Linked DNA regions of Homo sapiens: all the other regions are linked to region 1. Evidence: fine-mapped expression QTL. A gene starts in region 1. Each other region holds a variant in brackets. All regions are shown on one strand. Distances are from middle to middle. Region 1 holds the start of NECTIN2 (nectin cell adhesion molecule 2). Region 2 overlaps NECTIN2 (nectin cell adhesion molecule 2). Region 3 overlaps NECTIN2 (nectin cell adhesion molecule 2). Region 4 overlaps NECTIN2 (nectin cell adhesion molecule 2).

Region 1 (7,588 bases):
ATGGAAGCGGAGTTCCCAGCTCTGGGTCAAAGCTGGGAGGCCAGTGAGAGCCATCCTGGGGGAAATGAGGCCAGAGAGGTGGCCGGGGTTCCCCCAAGATCCCCCTGAGCTCTCTTCTGCGCAAACCCTCGGGAAACTCTAGCATCCCAGAGTTTGTCGCTGGGAATACACAACCGGGTCACCTGCAAGGGGCGGGGCCAGCGCCTCTTTCAAGGGTTCCCTCCCAGCCCCTCCCTCCCCAGGGGGGCCGCTCTCCTCCCCTAGTGGGGTGGATGGAAGGACGCCAGGGGGTCCAAGGCATAGCAATGGGAGGGACGGGGGATAAGGGCGGCGGCTCCACTCGTCCACCTCCTGCTATGGCTCTGAGGACAAAGGCGCTACCAGAGGATAGATAAGGTCCCGAAACCGGGGAGTCCGGAACCCGGAGCCAGGAGCGCCCGCCCCGCCCCTCCCTGGCTCGGCGAGAGTGAAACCAGGAAAACTTCCCCGGCGACGTCTCCGTCGCCCCCGACCATTCATAGGGAAAGGGAGGAGTCTCCCAGCCTCTGGGACTCGGGGCCTCCCGTTCTATCTGGGACTCAGGCGACTGAGACTCCAGCCTCAAGACAGAGCCTTCGACCCTTGATCATATCTGGAGCCCAAGAGACGGGGCCCGCTGCTCGCACTTCTGTTTGGATCTCAGAAGACGTTCCTCTGCCTACAATTAAGTCTGAAGCCCACGAGATCGAGTCTCCTGTCCCCCGGTTCTGCCGGGAACCCTGAAAACGAAGCCCCCTGCCCACAATTAAATCCAGAAGCTACAAGTTTGATCCTCTCTCGCCCCCAGTTTTACCTAGATCCCAGTTAGACTTAGCGCCTAGCCTCCATTCTACCAGGGACCCTGAAGACGGAGCCCCCGGCCCCTAATTTTTCTGGAGTCCACGGAGTCAGAACCCCCAACTCCCTGAGGTTCGGGGTTGGAGCTCCGAGCTCAGGCCCTTCCCCCTAAGTCGCCAGAACTCTTATCCTTAGCCCTCCAAGGGACCCGAATCAGGTCCGCTTGTCCTCAGTTCTCTCCGGGCCTCAGACGCCCAAGCCGGGAAGAAGGAAAAATAGGGGAGGGAGGTGGTCTCGCCTCTTCCTCGAGACCTTACTGCGGTAGGTGGGGGGAACATTCCCCACATTCCTGAGAGGGGTAGAGGAGACAGAGACCCAGATCCGGGTGAACTACTCGGCGCGGGGTGGGGAGGGGGCACCAGGCCTTCCTGGGATTTAACCCTTTCGGCGCGGGAATCCGAGAAATGGGGAGGGGGACAGACAAGCAGGCGTAGGATGGGCAATTGGATTAAGAAGGATGGGGGTGGTGGTGAGAGAGATGCAGAAAGGAGGGGTCAGAGTCTCCTCGAGAGAATCGGACGTGTAGGGGGTCGGAGTCTGTGGGGCCAGCCAGGAAGGGGGCACGCGAGAGGGGGCTCGGGGAGCCGGGGGTGGGCGGGGAAGGTGCTCGGCTTCCCCAGCTCGGAAGGTAAGGTTGGAGGGGGTCCGCGCGAGGGCAGGGGGCCGTCCGCTCGTCTCACCGGTTTCCAGGAGCAGCAGCAGCAGCAGCGGCCACAGCAGCGGCGTCGGCGGCGATCTCGACGGCAGGAGGGCAGCGGCCCGGGCCATGGAGGGCCCGGGAGGGGACTGGGCCCGGCCGGAGGCCCGCGGGCCACTCTGTGGGGGCCGATCGGCTGGGCGGTTTAGTAGGTGCCTGTGGGGCTCCGGCTCCGGCTCCGGGCCGGTTCCCGCTGCGCTCTAGCCTCCCTGTTCTGCTCTCCCGGCCCAGCTCTCCCCGCCCGGCTCGGCACCCCCGGCCTCTCGCTCAGCTCCGGCGGTTCGAACCCGCTGACGTCACAGGATCCACCCGCTGCTCCCCCGAGTCAAGCCGACCCTGGCTCCGGCCCCGCCCCCTCCTGGCGTTCTGACCCCGCCCCCCGGATTCCACCCCTGTTCCTCCCCGGGATTCCATTCTCGCTCCTCCCCAGGATTCTAAGGTCGCCCCTGCCAAAGAATTCTGTCTCCTTCGCTCCCGGCGTTAAACCACGCCCCCTAAGGTCTAGCCACGCCCCCTCTGCTCCCGAGTAGTTCCCACGCCCCGCCCCCTGCCTACCGGCCGCCTCGCCAAGGTCTTGCCACGCCCCTTTCGGCCCTTCCGGCCGACTCCGCCCCCACCAGCCCCGCCTCCACCAGCCCCGCCCCTCGCCCTAGCCGGAGTTCTCTCGGTCTCTTAGCTCAGTCCGTCCTGGCCTCTGTCCCACCCACAGTTCGAATCCTGCCCTTTCCTGCCTGCCCGGGTCCTCTCATCACAGTTGCCTGAGGCACGTGGGGCTTTACGGTTCTGCCCCCAGCACGTCCCGGTTGTGCGACCTCCCCGCAGGTCGAGCCCATCGCCCTGAGCCTGTTTCTCGTACCCTCGTGCGTTTCTAATCTCTGCCCCGAACTCTAGGTGTCGCTGCACTCGTTTCTTTCTGGATTTCTCTGTCTCTCTTACGTGTCTTTGTGTCTCTCTCACTCTCTTTGGGTCTTCCTCTCTGTCCCTGTATTTCTGCCTCTCTGGGTCTTTCCGTCCTCATGCTTCGGTGTCGCTCTGTTTCTGGTCTTCCTTTGTCAGTCACTGTTTCTTTATTTCAATAAAAGAGACGGGGCGGGGGGGCGGCGGGGTCTCACTATGTTGCTGAGGCTGGCCTCAAGCGATCCTCCCGGCTCGGCCTCCCAAGATGCTGGGATTACAGGCGTGAGCCACCAAGCCCGGCCTGTCTGTCACTGTTTCTGGGTCACTTGGTCCCCATGTCTCTTTCCATCCTTTGACTCTGTCTCTGTGTCTCTCTGTCTCTATCTGTGTGCCTCTCTGTCTCTGTCTCTATTTCTGTGTATCTCTGTCTCTATCGGCCTGTCTCTGTGCCTCTCTGTCTCTGTGTGCCTCTCTGTCTCTGTGTTTCTCTGTCTCTATCTCTGTGCCTCTCTATCTCTGTGCTTCTCTGTCTCTGTCTCTCCGTGTGTCTCTCTCTGTCTCTATCTGTGTCTCTCTGTCCCTGTCTCTTTCTCTGTGTCTCCCTCTCGGCGTCTCTTGTCTCTGCGTGCGAGTCTCTCTCGCTGTCTCTCTGTCCCTGCTCTGTTCTCTGCTTCCTTCCCTCCCTACCTCCCTGCGCGCCCTGGTCCTCCCCTCCCAACACCTGCTCCGCGCCGCCTTCTCACCGCAGCCACCCGCCAGGGGGCAGCAGAGACCGGCCCCCGCGCTGCGCTGGCCCGGCCGGGCTGGGTGGGGCTGGGCTCCAGTCCGGCCTCCGGACCTGGTCACTCCCCGCGTCCTTGTCCCACTTCCCCTATCTCCCCAGCCTCCTCGCGTCTTTGTGTCTCTCGCTCAGACTCGGGCCCTTTGTCTCTCCCAGCGGCTCGCCCTCCTCCCTACCCCCACCTACCTCTTCGCATTCTTTGGGCTGCCCAGGGGGAGCTGGTGAGGCCGCGCCGGGGGGCGGGATGAGGGCGCGAAGCGGGAGGCCGGGGGAGGGGGTGCCACGGAGCGCCAGTCTGGGCCCAAGTTCGTCCAGGGCCAGGAGGCGCGGAGCTGCTCAGCTGGGGGCAGGTGCTTGGGGGCTTCTTGCCCTAGCAAGAGGACCACCTAGGCTCGCCCTCCCTTCCACCTGCCACACACCTGGGCTTTCCTCCCCAGAAGGACTAGGTTTCAAGTAGCAGAGGCTGTTATCCCTCCGCATTCGAGTCTTAGTTATGATCCTTTTTTTTTTTTTTTCTTTGAGACGGAGTCTCGCTCTGTCGCCCAGGCTGGAGGGCAGTGGCGCGATCTCGGCTCACTGCAACCTCTGCCTCCTGGGTTCAAGCGATTCTCCTGAGTCAGCCTCCTGAGTAGCTGGGATTACAGGCGCGCGCCACCACGCCCGGCTAATTTTTGTATTTTTAGTAGAGACGGGGTTTCACCATGTTGGTCAGGCTGGTCTCAAACTCCTGACCTCCTGATCCACCCGCTTCAGCCTCCCAAAATGCTGGGATTGCAGGTGTGAGCCACCGCGCCCGGCACTTACGATACTGTTAATACATGTAGTCAGCACTTACCGTGTGCCAGGCACTGATCTAAGTGCACTGCGAATATTATCTCATGTAAGCCATGCAGCGCCATGGGCGATAGGGAAACTGAAGCAGAGAGATGAAGTGACTCACTGAGTTACAAAATGGCAGAGCCAGGGCGGGGCGCCCTGGCTGACGCCTGTAATCCCAGCACTTTGGGAGGCTGAGGCGGGTGGATCACTTGAGTTCAGGAGTTCGAGACCAGCCTGGCCGACATGGTGAAACCCTGTCTCTACTTGGGAGGCTGAGGCAGGAGAATCGCTTGAACCCGGGAGTTGGAGGTTGCAGTGAGCCGAGATCGCACCACTGCACTCCAGCCTGGGCAACAGAGTGAGACTCAGTCTGAAAAACATAAAATAAAATAGAAATTAAAAATAAATAAAAATAAACAAAATGGCAGAGCCAGAGCTGACTCTTCTAAGCACCTTATTTCTCTTAGTTAGTTCCTCACAGGGATCCCATGAAGGGGACACCATGGTGATCCCCATTTCACTGAAAAGTAAACTGAGGCACAGGGTGGTTGTTTGCCCCAAGCCACCCAGCAAAGACACATAGCAGGCCGGGTGCTTCTTTTGGGCCCGGATGGTCTGTGCTCTTTTTGTTTTTGAGACGGAGTCTGGCTCTGTTGCCAAGGCTGGAGTGCAGTGGCGCAATCAATCTCGGCTCGCTGCAACCTCCGCCCCCCAGGTTTGAGTGATTCTCCTGCCTCAGCCTCCTGAGTAGCTGGGATTACAGGCACGCACCACCACGCCCGGCTAATTTTTGTATTTTTAGTAGTGACGGGCTTTCACCATGTTGGTCAGGCTGGTCTCGAACTCCTGACCTTGTGATCTGCCTGCATTAGCCTCCCAAAGTGCTGGGATTACAGGGGTGAGCTACTGCACCCGGCCAGTCTGTGCTTTTAACCTCCATGCCATGTGAGCTCCAGATAGCTTGTGTCTCAGGCTTGGCACAAACTGGGTGTGAGGATGGCTGGACAAATAGGCGCACACATAATAAATGCATAGCAGCTACAGCTACTCGGGAGGCCGAGGTGGGAGGATCACCTGAGCCCAGGGAGGTTGAGGCTGCAGTGAGCTGTGATTGAGCCACTGCACTCCAGCCTGGGAGACAGAGAGATTTTGTCTCTAAAATAAATAAATACACAAATAGGCCTTGCGCAGTGGCTCATGTCTGCAATCCCAGCACTTTGGGAGGCCAAGGCTGGCAGATCACTTGAATTTAGGGGTTCAAGACACGCCTGGCAACATGGTAGAGCCCCGTCTCTTAAAATATATATAATAATAAAATAAAACAGTAAAATAAATAAATGTGCTTAATTTATTTATGTATTTAATTTTGAGGCAGGGTTGTGCTTTGTCGCCCAGGTTGGAGTGCAGATCTTGGCTCCCTCTAACCTCAAACTTCCCAGCCCAAGGGATCCTCTGCCTCAGCCTCCTGAGTAGCTGGGACTACAGGCATGTGCCACTATGCTCGGTGCATTTTTTTTTTTTGAGACAGTCTCTGCTCTGTCGCCCAGGCTGGAGTGCAGTGGCGCGATCTTGGCTCAGTGCAAGCTCCGCCTCCCAGGTTCATGCCATTCTCCTGCCTCAGCCTCTCGAGTAGCTGGGACTACAGGTGCCTGCCACCACGCCCAGCTGATTTTTTGTATTTTTAGTAGAGACGAGGTTTCATGGTCTTAGCCAGGATGGTCTCGATCTCCTGACCTCGTGCTCCACCTGCCTCGGCCTCCCAAAGTGCTGGGATTACAGGCGTGAGCCACTGTGCCCGGCTGCTCGGTGCATTTTTAAATGTTTTGTAGAATTTGATTCTCGCTTTGTTGCCCAGGCTGGTCTTGAACTCCTGCCCTCAAGTGATCCTCTCACCTCAGCCTCCCAAAGTGCTGGGATTACAGGTGTGAGCCATCGCGCCTGGCAATAAATGTGCTTTAGATCTCTCTGACCTTCTCTCCCCAATCTGAGGCCAGGTTTGTGGACCAGGACCTCTGGGTTTTAGTGCCAGCCTTGCTACTAACTTGCTTTGCAAAATCCTGGGACCCCCGTTTATCCATTGAACAAAAGAACCAGTCCCCAGGAAGTCTTCTTCTAGGAAGGCCTCTAGCACCTCCTTTCTCCTGGCCTACGAATGAGTGGGCTTAGCTCTCTCCTGGCTGTTCTTTGTGAGCAGGGATGAGCCCAGGAAGAAAGCCCCAGGAGGCTGGCCATGGTGGCTCAAGCCTGTAATCCCAGTACTTTGGGAGGCCGAGACAGATGGATCACCTGAGGTCAGGAGTTTGAGACCAGCTTGGCCTACGTGGTGAAACCCTGTCTCTACTGAAAATACAAAAATTAGCAGGATGTGGTGGCGGGTGCCTATAATCCCAGCTACTTGGGAGACTGAAGCCGGAGAATCGCTTGAACCCGGGAGGTGGAGGTTGCAGTGAGCCAAGATTGTGCCACTGCACTCCAGCCTGGGTGACAGCAAGGCTCTGCCAAAAAAAAAAGGAAAAAAAAAAAAAGAAAGAAAAAAATGCCCCAGAGGTGTAGGCTGGAGTTTCACACCCTTGGGTCACAAGCATGAGGCTGAGCACCAAGTTTGGTGACAAATGACTGGGTGGGTTCCACGCCCGCCTGGGGAGTTGACTTTTAGTGTCAAGGAGTCCCAGAGGTGGCACTTCACTGAAGAGCCATAACCACTAGAAGGTAGGGGCATAGGTAGGGGCAAAGGCTTCCTGACGGAGCTATGGAGCTGATGCCAAGTATTTTACCTGCCTGGCAACCTTTCCTTTCTTTTAGCAGCAGCAGCAGCTCCCCTAACCACTTCCTCCCCTCAGTCTTTTTTTTTTTTTTTTAATTAAGACAGGGTCTCACTCTGTCGCTCAGGCTGGAGTGTGGTGACATTACCATGGCTCACTGCAGCCATGACCTCCCTGGCTCGGGATCCTTCCATGTCAACTTCCCGAGTAGCTGGGACTACAGGCATGTGCCACTATGCTTGGCTAATTTTTCTATTTTTTTGTAGAGATGGGTTTTTGGGTTGTTGCCGAGGCTGGTCTTGAACTCTTGGGCTCAAGCAATTTGCCTGCCTCGGCCTCCCAGAGTGCTGGAATCACAAACGTGAGCCACCATACCCGGCTCTTATTCTGAGACAGGGTCATGCTCTGTTGGCCAGACTGGAGTGCAGTGGTACAATCATGGCTCATTGAAGCTTCCACCTCTCAGGCTCAAGCAATCCTCCCACTTCAGCCTCCCAAGTGGCTGGGACTATAGGCATTCGCCACTGTGCCAGAATAATCTTTTTTTTTTTTTTTGAAACGGAGTCTTGCTCTGTTGCCCAGGCTGGAGTGCAGTGGAGCGATCTTGGCTCACTGCAAGCTCTGCCTCCTGGGTTCACGCCGTTCTCCTGCCTCAGCCTCCCGAGTAGCTGGGACTACAGGCGCCCGCCACCATGCCCAGCTAATTTCTTGTATTTTTAGTAGAGATGGGGTTTCACCTTGTTAGCCAGGATGGTC
Region 2 (4,000 bases), 24 kb before region 1:
CACCGCCTTCTCCCCTGACCATCGTGGAGCATCCAACAAGCCTCCCCACATCCTCCTGGCCGCCCTCCAAGCTGTTAGAATAGTGACTCAGGGCCCGAGCCCACCACTTCCCCATGGCCACCTCCCCTGGCCACTCCACATGCTCCCCATCCACGCCCTCCTCAGTCTCTGCCTCCACCCACTTTGGGGTTTTGGTTGGTGATTTTGTGCCTGGATTGCTTTGGCCTCCTTCTCCAGACCCCACTCCAAGCCCCACTTCGTCAAGGGCACTTTCCTGACCGCCGACTCTGGCCAACTATTCCTTGGTGGCTCACGCATCATGAAGACAGAGGCTTTGGCTGTTTTGTTCCTTACTTCTGCACCAGTGTGTATACGGAAGCTCTTGAGGTTATCTCTCTCTCTCTCTTTTTTTTTTATTAATTTGAGACAGAGTCTTGCTGTCACCCAGGATGCAGTGCAGTGGTGCAATCTCAGCTTACTGCAACCTGCCCTTGCTGGTTTCAGCAATTCGCCTGCCTTAGCCTCCTGAGTAGCTGGGATTACAGGTGTGCGCCACCATTCCTAGCTAATTTTTATTTGTAGTTTTGGAGACCCTCTCTCCAAGAAACAAACAAACAAACAAAAGCTCACTTGCAAGAGCTGCTTGCCTTGGCCCCTGCTTGAAGTGTATATTCAGGGCAACTTCAATCTATGCTCCCAGGTGGTCATCCTCAAGCTTTGGGCTTGATTAAACCCTACACTTAATCATATTTTCTTTTCTTTTTTTTTTTTTTTTTGAGATGGAGTCTCGCTCTGTCGCCCAGGCTGGAGTGCAGTGATGCGATCTCGGCTCACTGCAAGCTCCGCCTCCTGGGTTCATGCCATTCTCCTGCCTCAGCCTCCCAAGTAGCTGGGACTACAGGCACCCGCCACCACGCCCGGCTAATTTTTTTGTATTTTTAGTAGAGACAGGGTTTCACCGTGTTAGCCAGGATGGTCTCAATCTCCTGACCTCGTGATCCGCCTGCCTCGGCCTCCCAAAGTGCTGGGATTACAGGCGTGAGCCACTGCGCCTGGCCCTTAATCATATTTTCTGAGTCTCATTATTTATTTATTTATTTTGAGACAGAGTTTTGCTCTTGTTGCCTCTCAGCCTCCCAAAGTGCTGGGATTACAGGTGTGAGCCACCGTGCCCAGCCCTGAAGTTATCTCTGGATGAGAACAAATGATTGCACAAGAAGAGAGGCGTTTGTGAGGGTGGGGAGGAGAAGAGCTGTCCTTTGTATTATGGAAAACGGCTGTGGTTTCATGTGTTACTGGAAAGGGAAGTGTTTACTCAAGGATAGCACAGGGTGACCTTCTCAGACGCTCTGGGCTGAGAAGGGGGAAGAAAAGGCATCCAGAGTGACGTGGCTTCTGGGAAGTTGCCTAGGGAAGGTGGGCTCCCAGGGGACTTCCAACATATTTTTTTTTTTTTCCAGACAGAGTCTCACTCTGTCGCCCAGGCTGGAGTATAGTGGCGCGATCTCGGCTCACTGCAAGCTCCGCCTCCCGGGTTCAAGCCATTCTCCTGCCTCAATCTCCCGAGTAGCTGGGACTAAGGCACCCGCCACCAC[G/A]CCTGGCTAATTTCTTGTATTTTTAGTAGAGATGGGGTTTCACCGTGTTAGCCAGGATGGTCTCGATTTCCTGACCTCGTGATCCGCCCGCCTCGGCCTCCCAAAGTGCTGGGATTACAGGAGTGAGCCACCACGCCCAGCCTCAAGATTTAAAGAAAGAGCATTCGTAGCTGGATGTGGTGACTCATGCCTGTAATCCCAGCTATGCAGGAGGCGGAGGTAGGAGGATCCCCTGAGCCCAGGAGTTCGAGTCTAGCCTGGACAATGTAGTGAGACTTTGTCTCAAAAAAAGAAAAAAAAAAAAAAAGAAAAAGGAAAAGAAAAAAAAGCATCCTTCAAAAAAAATCTTCCCTGCCTTCTCTATTTTTGCCAAGTATCAGTCACCTTCCCGCTGGGAGTCCTATTTTTTTTTTTTTTTTTTTGAGACAGGGTCTCGTGCTGGAGTGCAGTGGTGCAATCTTGGCTCACTTGCAATCTCTGCTTCCCAGGCCCAAGCGATCCTCCCACCTCAGCCTCTTGGGTAGCTGGGACTACAGGTGTGTGCTACCATGCCCAGCTAATTTTTTTTTTTCTTGTAGAGATGGGGCCTCACCATGTTGCCCAGAGTGGTCTGAAACTCCTGACCTCAAAGCGATCTGCCCACCTTGGCCTCCTAAAGTGCTGGGATTACAGGCGTGAGCCACCGCACCAGGCCTGGGACTCCTCTCTGATCCTGCTTCCCCCTCAATCCATGGGCAAGCCCAGCACCTACTATCTTCTAAAAACACCACTATATGCCGCCCGCTTCCCTCTGCCCCCCACTGCCTCATCCGTCTTCCCAGCAATGCCTCTTCTCCCCTCTCGTCCCAGCTCCCTTCTACCTCCGTCCACTCCTCCAATCACTCCTCATACTGCTGCCGGTCATTTTTTGCAACCTCAAACGTTTGTCCAGATCTCTCCTGTGGCTTGACACCTCCCATGGCTCTTAACCATGCTGAGGGCATAGTCCAGCCTCCTCGCCTCCACCTGTGAAGCCCGTGTAATGTGGCCCCGCTGAGGGTCACCCAAGCCCTTGCCTATCCTCACCAGCCCCCTTTCCATTCCTGGAACGCGCCCAGCTCCCATCTCATGCCCACCTCCCAGGTTTCTGTGCCCGTGCCCCTCTGCTATGCCCAAAGGTAGCTCCTTCTCAGACTCCAGGACTTGACTAAGACGCCTTCCCTGCACATCCTATCTCAATGAGGCCACTATGTCCCCTACTTCTAAGCCGTTTTACTTCCTGCCCGGACTGGACTTGTTTTAAGACAGGGTCTCGCTCTCTTGTCCAGGATGGAGTGCAGTAGCACAATCACAGCTCACTGCAGCCTCAACCTCCTGGGCTCAGGTGATCCTCCCACCTCAGTCTCTCGAGTAGCTGAAATTACAGGTAAGTCACTGAGCCTGGTTAATTAAAACAATTTTTTTTTCTTTCCTGGCCAGGCTCAGTGGCTCATGCCTATAATCCCAGCACTTTGAGAGGCCCAGGTGGACGGATCACCTGAGGTCGGGAGTTCAAGACCAGCCTGGCCAACATGGTGCAACCCCGTCTCTACTAAAAATACAAAAAAATTTAGCTAGGTGTGGTGGTGGGAGCCTGTAATCCCAGCTACTTGGGAGGCTGAGGCAGGAGAATTGGTTGAACCTGGGAGGCGGAGGTTGCAGTGAGCCGAGATCGCGCCACTCCACTACAGCCTGGGTAACAAGAGCAAAACTCTGTCTCAAAAAAAAAAAAAATTTTTTTTGTCATTGAGACAAGAGTCTTACTATGTTGCCTAGGATGGTCTCAAATTCCTAGGCTCAAGGGATCCTCCCACCTCGGCCTCCCTGAGTGCTGGGGTTATGGGCGTGAGCCACAGCACCCGGCCCCACCCGGACTTTGTAGTTGCCTTACCCTGTGGTTTCTCAGCTCCCATTCTTTCCCCTCCCAACACAGCCAGGAGGAGCTGGTGAGAACCCAAGCCAGATCAAACCTGTCTGCTGCTAAGAACCTACTACAGCTCTTATCCTCCCTGGGCAAAAGCCAAAGGCTTCTTATAGTCCACAAGGCTTTTGCCAATCTGTCCCCATCCTCTCCTTGACTTTATTGCTTCCTACTTTCCCCCACTCATATGTCTCCAGCCACCCTGACTTCCTTCCTGGCCCTCAAATACTCCAGGTATTCCTGTCTCAGGGCCTTTGTACTTGCCATTCCGTCTGCCTGGAACGCTCTTCCCTTAGATACCCAGAGGGCTCCTCCTCTCCTAGTTTCTGCCTAAATATCCCCAGACCTCCTTAGCTAGAATTGCAACTTGGCCCTCTCCAACTTCCATGGCCCCTTTAACTGCCTGACTTACTCTTTTATTTATTTATTAGAGATAGGGCCTCACTCTGTCACCCAGGCTAGAGTG
Region 3 (4,000 bases), 38 kb before region 1:
TAGGTGTGGTGGTACGTGGTCCCATTTACTTGGGAGGCTGCGGTAGGAAGATTGGTTGAGCTCAGGAGGCGAAGGTTGCAGTGAGCTCAGATTATACCACTGAACTCTAGCCTGAGGGACAGAGTGAGATCCTGTCTCAAAAAAACAAATTTTGCATAGCTCGCATACCTCAGACTGCTCTGAGCTATTTTTCTTTTCTTTTTTTTTTTTTACAAGGTCTCACTCTGTTGGCCAGACTGGAGTACAGTGGTGTGATCATAGCTCACTGCAGCCTCCACATGCCCCCACCCCCACCTCAGCCCACCCAAGTAGCTGGGACTACAGGCATGGGCTACCAGGTCTGGGTAATTTTTGTATTTTTTTTGTAGACAGGTTTCGCCATGTTGCCCAGGCTGGTCTCGAACTCCTGAGCTCAAGTTATCTACTTGGGTTGGCTTCCCAAAGTGCTGGGATTACAGGTGTGAGGCACCGTGCCCAGTCTTTTATTTTTTAAGATACAGGGTCTTGCTCTGTCACCTGGGCTAGAGTGCAGTGGCATGATCATAGCTCATTGCAGACTTGAGCTCCTGGGCTCAAGTGACCTCCCACCCCAGCCTCCTGAGGAGCTGGACCACAGGTGTGCACCACTTTGCCTGGCTAATTTTGTTTGTTTTATTTTTTTAGAGATGGTGTCTCACTTTGATGTTCAGTCTGGTCTCGAACCACTAGCAACAAGAGCCTTGGCCTTCCAAAGTGCTGGCATTGGCTGGGCGCAGTGGCTCATGCTTGTGATCTTAGCACTTTGGGAGGCCGAGGCGGGTGGATCACTTGAGGTCAGGAGTTCAAGAGTAGCCTGGCCAACATGGTGAAACTCCGTCTCTACTAAAAATACAAAAATTAGCCGGGCGTGGTGGCGCGCATCTGTAATCCCAGCTACTCGAGAGGCTGAGGCTGGAGAATCGCTTGAACCAGGGAGGCGGAGGTTGCAGTGAGCCGAGATGGCGCCTTGGCACTCCAGCCAGGGCGACAGACCAAGACTCCATCTTAAACAAAAACAAAAACAAAACAAAGTGCTGGGATTAGAGGCAGGAGCCACCCTGCCTGACCCACCCTGCCTGACCAGTGTTACTCTTTATCTTCAGGTTTCTGGAATTTGTGATACAAAGAGCAATGGATAGCCAATCAATAGCTTACGTTATTTTAATGTAAATTCTCCATAACAATTTAGGAACCGCCCTTTCTTCTTTTATTAACAACTGGCCAGCCATGGTGGCTCACGCCTGTAATCCCAGCACTTTTGGAGTCTGAGGAGGGGGGATCCCAAGGTCAGGAGATAGAGACCATCCTGGCTAACACAGTGAAACCCTGTCTCTACTAAAAATCCAAAAAATTAGCTGGGCATGGTGGTGGGCGCCTGTATTCCCAGCTACTCCGGAGGCTGAGGCAGGAGAATTGCTTTAACCTGGGAGGCAGAGCTTGCAGTGAGCCGAGATTGCATCACTGTATTCCAGCCTCGGTGACAGAGTGAGACTCCGTCACAAAAAAAAAAAAAAAATGTAGTAGGATCCTGGGCTCCGAGGAGTCTTTGCAGAGCGGAGCGGTCAGAGCCACCCTGCGTGGCCATTTTTTTTTTTTTTTTTTTTTTTTTGTAGATGGGGGTAGTCTTCCTATGTTACCCAGACTGGGCTCAAATTCCTGGGCTCAAACGATCGATCTCCCCACCTCAGCCTCCAAAAGTGCTGGGATGGCAGGTGTAAGCCACTGTGCCTGGCCCCCAGCTAATTTTTAAATTCAATGCCATACTTTATAGCAGAGAGAAACCCATACCTCCCTACTCCATTTAGACCCCAGTTCCTTTAGGTCTGTCTGTTTCACACAGCCATTATGGAGAATTTTCTCCCACCCTCACCCCTACCCCATACTCCTCAGTTCTTCGACCCCTCTCCCATCCCCGTCTCAGGGCCCATCACTTACTCTTCGTCCTCCTCTGCCCCCTGCAGCGTCTGCTCCTTCCGCTGCTGCCGGCAGATAAGGATGCCCGTGGCAGCCACAGCAGTAGCAATGATGGCGGCGATGATGCCCCCGATGATGCCGCCTGTGGCCCCTGCGCCTGCTGTGTTGGGGGTCTCTGCAAGGAGAGGGACAGCGTGAGGGGGTCTCCAGGAGGAAGCCACAGCTCCTTATTCCAAGCGACCATCCCACCCCACATCATCGCCTGCCTGTCTATGTCCTCTCCCATGGGCAGGGGACATTCTTTCATTCAACTCAAACTGCTGAGCATGAGGAAGGAGCGAGGATGTGTGCCCCGCATGGGAGATGAGTGGAGAACAAAACATACAAAGTGTCTACCTTCATGGAACTTTGATTCTGGTTGGGCAGGGAGAACAACAGTAAGCAAACCAGTACAATAGCTCACATGCCAGATGGGAGTAAGTCACGGGGGATACAAAAATATACAGTGCGGAAGTGATAGGAGGTGCAAAGTGGGGTCCC[C/T]GAAGGTAGTGGGAGGGCCTCTACCTTACTGTAAGGTGACAACTGAGCAAGGGCCTGAAAGAGACACCGGGGATGAGTCATGAGAGTGTCTGGGGGTATCGCAGGCAGCGCAAACAGCCAGCGGCCCTGCAGGAGGCTTGTGGGGCTCTATGGTTTTTTTTGAGACGGTCTCGCTTTGTCACCCAGGCTAGAGTGCAGTGGCATGATCACCACCAACTGTAGCCCCAATCTCCTGGGCTCAAGCGATCCTCCCACCTCACCCTCCGGAGTGGCTGGAACTACAGGCATGTGCCGCCAGGCCCAGCTTTTTTTTTTTTTTTTTGAATTTTTTTGTAGAGATGGGGTTTTGCCATGTTGCCCAGGCTGGTCTTGAACTCCTGGGCTCAAGTGATCCTCCCGCCTCGGCCTCCCAACGTTCTGGGATTATGCCGTGCTCGGCCTGCCTTGTATTGTTTTTAAAGAACAGCAAGTAGACTGTGTAGCTGGGGCAGAATGAGGCGGGGCAGAGTGGGAAGATGAGAGGAGAGGAGACAGGACCAGGGGCGGCTAGAAGACAGAGAATGCGGGGACAGAATTCTGGGATCCAGAATCACCTCTGGGGACTAGAATCTCCTTCCACTTATCAGGAAGGGGGTTAGGGCTTGGGGCAGTGACTGACGCCTGTAATCCCAGCGCTTTGGGAGGGCGAGGCGGGCGGATTGTTCAAGACCAGCCAGGGCAACGAGCACAAGACCTCATCTCTAGAAAAAATTTTAAAAATTAGCCGGGGGCTAGCCGGGCGCGTTGGCTCACGCCTGTAATCCCAGCACTTTGGGAGGCCGAGGCAGGTGGATTACCTGAGGTTGGGAGTTTGAGACCAGCCTGACCAACATGGAGAAACCCTGTCTCTACTAAAAATACAAAATGTTAGCTGGGCATGCTAGCGCGCGCCTGTAATCCCAGCTACTCAGGAGGCTGAGGCAGGAGAATTGCTTGAACCTGGGAAGCGGAGGTTGCCGTGAGCCAAGATCGCGCCATTGCACTCCAGCCTGGATAAGAGTGAAACTCCGTCTTAAAAAAAAAAAAAAAAAATTAGCCAGGGGCCAGGCACAGTGACTCACACCTGTCATCCCAGCACTTTTGGAGGCTGAAGTGGGAGGATCGATCGCTTGAGCCCAGGAGTTTGAGCCCAATCTGGGTAATATAGGGAGACCACCCCACTTCTTAAAAAAAAAAAGGCTGGGTGCGTTACTCAAGAGGCTGAGACAGGAGAATTGCTTGAACTTGGGAGGTGGAGGGTGCAGTGAGCCGAGATCGTACCACTGCACTCCAGCCTGGGTAACAGAGCTAGACACCGTCTCAAAAAAAAAAAAAAAAAAAAAAAAAAAAAAGGCAAGACAGGAAAAGGGGTCGAGAAGCGAGAAGCCTGTTTGCTCCTGGGCCTCTCCTTCCTTGCTAGCACCTCCCGTTTCCATTTCTCAAGTCTTTCCTAATGGAAGAGTTTTTGGAGTGGTTACCCGTTTACTTGCCAATTTCCATACTAGACTGT
Region 4 (4,000 bases), 29 kb before region 1:
CTTAGCCGGGTTTGGTGGTGAGCGCATATAGTCCCAGCTACTCAGGAGGCTGAGGCAGGATAATTGCTTGAACCCGGGAGGCGGAGGTTGCGGTGAGCTGAGATTGCGCCACTACACTTCAGCCTGGGCGACAGAGCGAGACTCCATCTCAAAAAAAAAAAAAAAGAATGTCCCTTTCCAGGTGTCATCTGGCTTCGTTCAGTCTATCTTGGCTGGTGCCACTGTCCTCCTGGGTGTGTGTCTTGGTGACAATGGGTTTGAGCGTGCAGGGTTACCATCCAGGTGAGTGTCTGGATTCTGATGCATCTCTGCAACAGAATTTCTCAGCACAGGGAGTGTCTGTGGCTGTGGATCCTGCCAGCTGTGGCTCTGACAGGAGGGGTCTCTGGCCCTATCTCCAGGACCCAGGGGTCTCTCTGTCCCAGGAAGCATGGCTCTGTTAACAGTCCCGGCCGCGCTCTAGGTGTGTGGCCCTGCAGTTGTGAGTTTGACCCAGTTTCCATCACTGGGTGATGGTCTGGCTTTGTGCTTTTCCTCTTTGGCTCCGTGCCTTGGGGCCGGATTGTGTTTCTGGGGGTGGGAGCTCTTGGTTTCTGTCTCTTTGAAGTTTGCATGCCTGACTCTAGGTGTGCGTCTTTCTCAGGAGCTGGAGCCCAGGGCAGCTTCCTCGGGTCTATTCGTGAGGACCCTACCCAGGCCTCTACTTTCTAGGAACCCCGAGCAAAGTCCTCAACCCCCCAACTCTGCTGCCTTCACCTACCCCGACACCCCAAATCCAGACCCCAGTCTGAGGCCACGAGGGGAAGGCCAACCCTCATCTCCCCTCAGCCAGGCAGGTCTGCATCCCTCCCAGGTCGGCGGCGCAGCCTCCCCCAGTGCAGCCCCAAGTCCTGAAGGGCAGAACTCCAGGGGAGCGGACCCAGGTCTCCACACACGGCCCCCAAGACCCACTCACCTCGGACAAAGATGACCTGCTCAGCGCGGCCCATGCCCACGGCATTGGTGACTGTGCAGACGAAGGTGGTATTGAACAGACTGTCCACTGCGTGGATGACCAGCTGGGAGCCCTGGGCCACTGCGGAGGTCGGGAAGGTGCCTGAGGTCCTGGAGGGGTGTGGGGTCAGGTGAGAGGGATACCAAGGTCGAGAGGGGAGCACAGGCCTCATCCCTAAAGATACACCCACCAGGAGCCAAGCTCCAGGGACCTAAGTACTCCCGGAGACCCCAAATTGCCAAAATGCAAGCTCCCTTCATCCTGGAGGACTTAGGAATTTAGGCCCAGCCCCTCCTCCCTCAGATCCAGGAGTCCAGGCCCCCAGCCCCTCCTCCCTTAGATCCAGGAGTCCAGGCCCCCAGCCCCGCCTCCCTCAGACCCAGGGTTCTGAGACCACGTGACTCACGTGCTCCAGTCATAGCCCGTGGGCTCTGGGTTGCTGCGGACGTCACAGCTCAGGGTGGCATCAGTACGGCCGAGGTACCAGTTGTCATCATAGCCGGAGATGGACACTTCAGGAGGGTCTGGGGGAAATGGGGGGACTGGATCAGCAAGGAGGAGAATCCCAGAGCGGGTGGACAAGTTAGCAGATAGACAGGAATGCTAAAGAAACGGGGCGGGTTGGCAGGAGGTACAGCAGTCAAAACTGTCTGGGGCAAATCAGTCCAGGCTGTTGTGTGCTGATGTCAGTGTAGACACTGTTCAGGGAAACCACTGTGGATAATTTTGTGGGAGTTATTGTTCAGTGCTGGCAGTGCCTAAGGGAGCCACTACAAATAATGTGTGTGTGTGTGTGTGTGTGTTTTTGAGACAGGATCTTGCTCTGTTGCCCAGGATGGAGAGCAGTGGGGTGATCCTGGTTTACTGCAAACTCCACGTCCTGGGCTCAAGCCATCCCTCCGCCTCAGCCTCCCAAATGGCTGGGATTACAGGCATGTACCACCACGTCCAGCTAATTTTGGTATTTTTAGTACAGACAGGGTTTCACCATGTTGCCCAGGCTAGTCCCGAACTCCTGACCTCAAGTGATCTGCCCGCCTTGGCCTCCCAAAGTGCTGGGATTGCAGGTGTGAGCCACCGCACCCGGCCTGTGTGTGTGTTTTTGGCATGGAGGGAGGATGTCAAAACAGGGTTTGGGCAACCAGTGTAGGTCCCGGGAGGAAAGTGGCACAGACGAGGCTCAGGGGAGCTGTTGCACTTATGGGCGCACGTGATGCATGTTGCCTGGGGGAGCTGGTGTAGACTTGGCTTAGGGAATCTGTGTAAGTGGAGGCATTGCCTGGGGAGCTAGTGTAGACAACATTGAGTTGGGATATGTGGTCATTTTGGACAGTGGTGGAAGAGGTGGTTAAGCCAGTATTTGAGGGATTCTGTGTGAAGAGTGCCAGGGTGGCCTCTCTGGGTAACATTACGAGGTGTGAGTATAGGCAG[T/G]TTCTGGAAGAGCTAGCAAAAAACCCAGTGGGAGGGGTCAGGATCAACAGGGCCCGGGGGGTGGAGCCTGTAATGTAATATATAATATAATGTAATTATATTATATTAAATAACAATAATAAATAATGACAAAATATATGTTAATATATAATATATAATTTATATATTTTATATAATATATAATATATAAAAATATAATAATAAATAATAAATAATAAATACAATGTAAATAATATCAAGGATCAGGGGTCGGTGTAGAGACTCTGGGAGACTCAGTATAGATGGCACCTAGGGAAGTCAAGGCAGAAGTATGGGAAGGTGTGGAGACGATGTTAGGTTGGGCAGTGTAGACATGTAGACATGTGGACATGGCCCAGCATGATTGATCTAACGGTCCAGGGGCAGTGTCAACCGGGGTCCATGGGAGCCAGAAAAGACACTGTTGGGGGCAGCTCTTTGCTGGTAAACCAACTCTCTGGGGAATAAAAGAAGCCCCCATTTCTAGGGTTTGCCAATTTCCTTGGTGTAAATATTCCCCAAGGTTGATTTCAAGCTACCGAGAAGACTTCATTGGATGTGGAATTGGAAAGAAATGTATCAAACTGGCTCTTGCAAGCCCATCCCAGGTTACCACAGACTAGGCACAGCATGCAGGAACCCAGTAAAGCCAATGTAGACAATGAGGGGGAAGTATGTAGATTTGCCCATGGGAGCCAGTGTAGACAATGGCAGGAAGGTAGTGCAGAATTTGGCTTCAGGGAACCCACGTAGACAACATTCAGAGACAATGTAGACAGTGCTTTAGAGAAGCCAGTGTAGGCAGTTTTGATGGGGGAGGGGTCACCCCCGATACACTCACAGCGTACAGAGAGGGTCACAGGTATCAGGGCTGGTTCCTCGAAGCTCTCATGCTCCACTTTGCAGGTGACCGTGACACCATCTGCTCGGCCCGAGGGCACCAAGGTGAAGCGGCTGGTGACAGTGACAGTTCCGGCCAGGGTCCCTGACACCTGAGTCTCTTTGGCTTCCCAGTCCAGGGATGAGAGCCAGGAGATCCGGGCAGGTGGGCGGCCCTCTTTGGAGATGCAGAGGGCCACTGTCGTAGGGTCCTGGCTGAACGTGACCTTCTGGGCCTCAGCTTGGTTCTTGGGCTTGGCTGGGGAGAGGAGGAGAGGGGGTGCGTCACTCCTCACCGGCAGTCATTCAACAAACACTCAGCAGAGGAGCAGGGTGGTTAGGCCCTAACTGCCGGGGTTCCAATCCCAGCTCTGCTGCTTATCAGCGGCCTGGCTTGGGATAAGTGGTTTTGCAACTCTGTAGCTGTTTCTTGTTTTGTAAAATGGGGATAATGAAAGTACCCACCCCTAGGATTGCTGTGTGAATTAAATAATACATTGATAGGTAAATGGCTTAGGGTAATGTCTGGCCTGCACTGCCCTATCCAAGTGTTGCCCATTTTATTTTACTTTATTTATTTTTTAGAGACAGGGGCCCGCTCTGTCACCTGGTCTCGAGTGCAGTGGTGTGATCATAGCTTGCTGCAGCCTGCACCTCCTAGGCTCAAGTGATCCTCCC

Evidence for each region. PIP is the estimated chance that this variant, and not a neighbour inherited with it, causes the effect.
Region 2: its variant is fine-mapped to the expression of NECTIN2 in whole blood (TOPMed, PIP above 0.99). The same link has a PIP of 0.9 or more in blood mononuclear cells.
Region 3: its variant is fine-mapped to the expression of NECTIN2 in whole blood (TOPMed, PIP above 0.99).
Region 4: its variant is fine-mapped to the expression of NECTIN2 in whole blood (TOPMed, PIP above 0.99).

The regions. Positions count from the first base shown.
Region 1 is chr19:44,840,582-44,848,169 of GRCh38, reverse strand. NECTIN2 (nectin cell adhesion molecule 2) reads right to left here and starts at 1,873. Exons shown (of 9, transcript NM_001042724.2): 1 at 1,557-1,873. The coding sequence starts at 1,644. RefSeq lists an enhancer at 1-163 and silencers at 1,803-1,902, 2,033-2,112, 2,193-2,242, 3,110-3,509.
Region 2 is chr19:44,866,369-44,870,368 of GRCh38, reverse strand. The region is part of intron 2 of NECTIN2 (nectin cell adhesion molecule 2); the gene reads right to left. Among named protein-coding and RNA genes, the nearest start is that of NECTIN2, 22 kb to the right of the region's middle. The variant G/A (reference allele first, on the strand shown) is at 1,596.
Region 3 is chr19:44,880,318-44,884,317 of GRCh38, reverse strand. It overlaps NECTIN2 (nectin cell adhesion molecule 2), which reads right to left. Exons shown (of 9, transcript NM_001042724.2): 6 at 1,954-2,107. Among named protein-coding and RNA genes, the nearest start is that of TOMM40, 8.9 kb to the left of the region's middle. RefSeq lists enhancers at 2,883-3,732, 3,733-4,000. The variant C/T (reference allele first, on the strand shown) is at 2,473.
Region 4 is chr19:44,871,434-44,875,433 of GRCh38, reverse strand. NECTIN2 (nectin cell adhesion molecule 2) reads right to left here. Exons shown (of 9, transcript NM_001042724.2): 3 at 3,285-3,581; 4 at 1,401-1,518; 5 at 956-1,104. Among named protein-coding and RNA genes, the nearest start is that of TOMM40, 18 kb to the left of the region's middle. The variant T/G (reference allele first, on the strand shown) is at 2,426.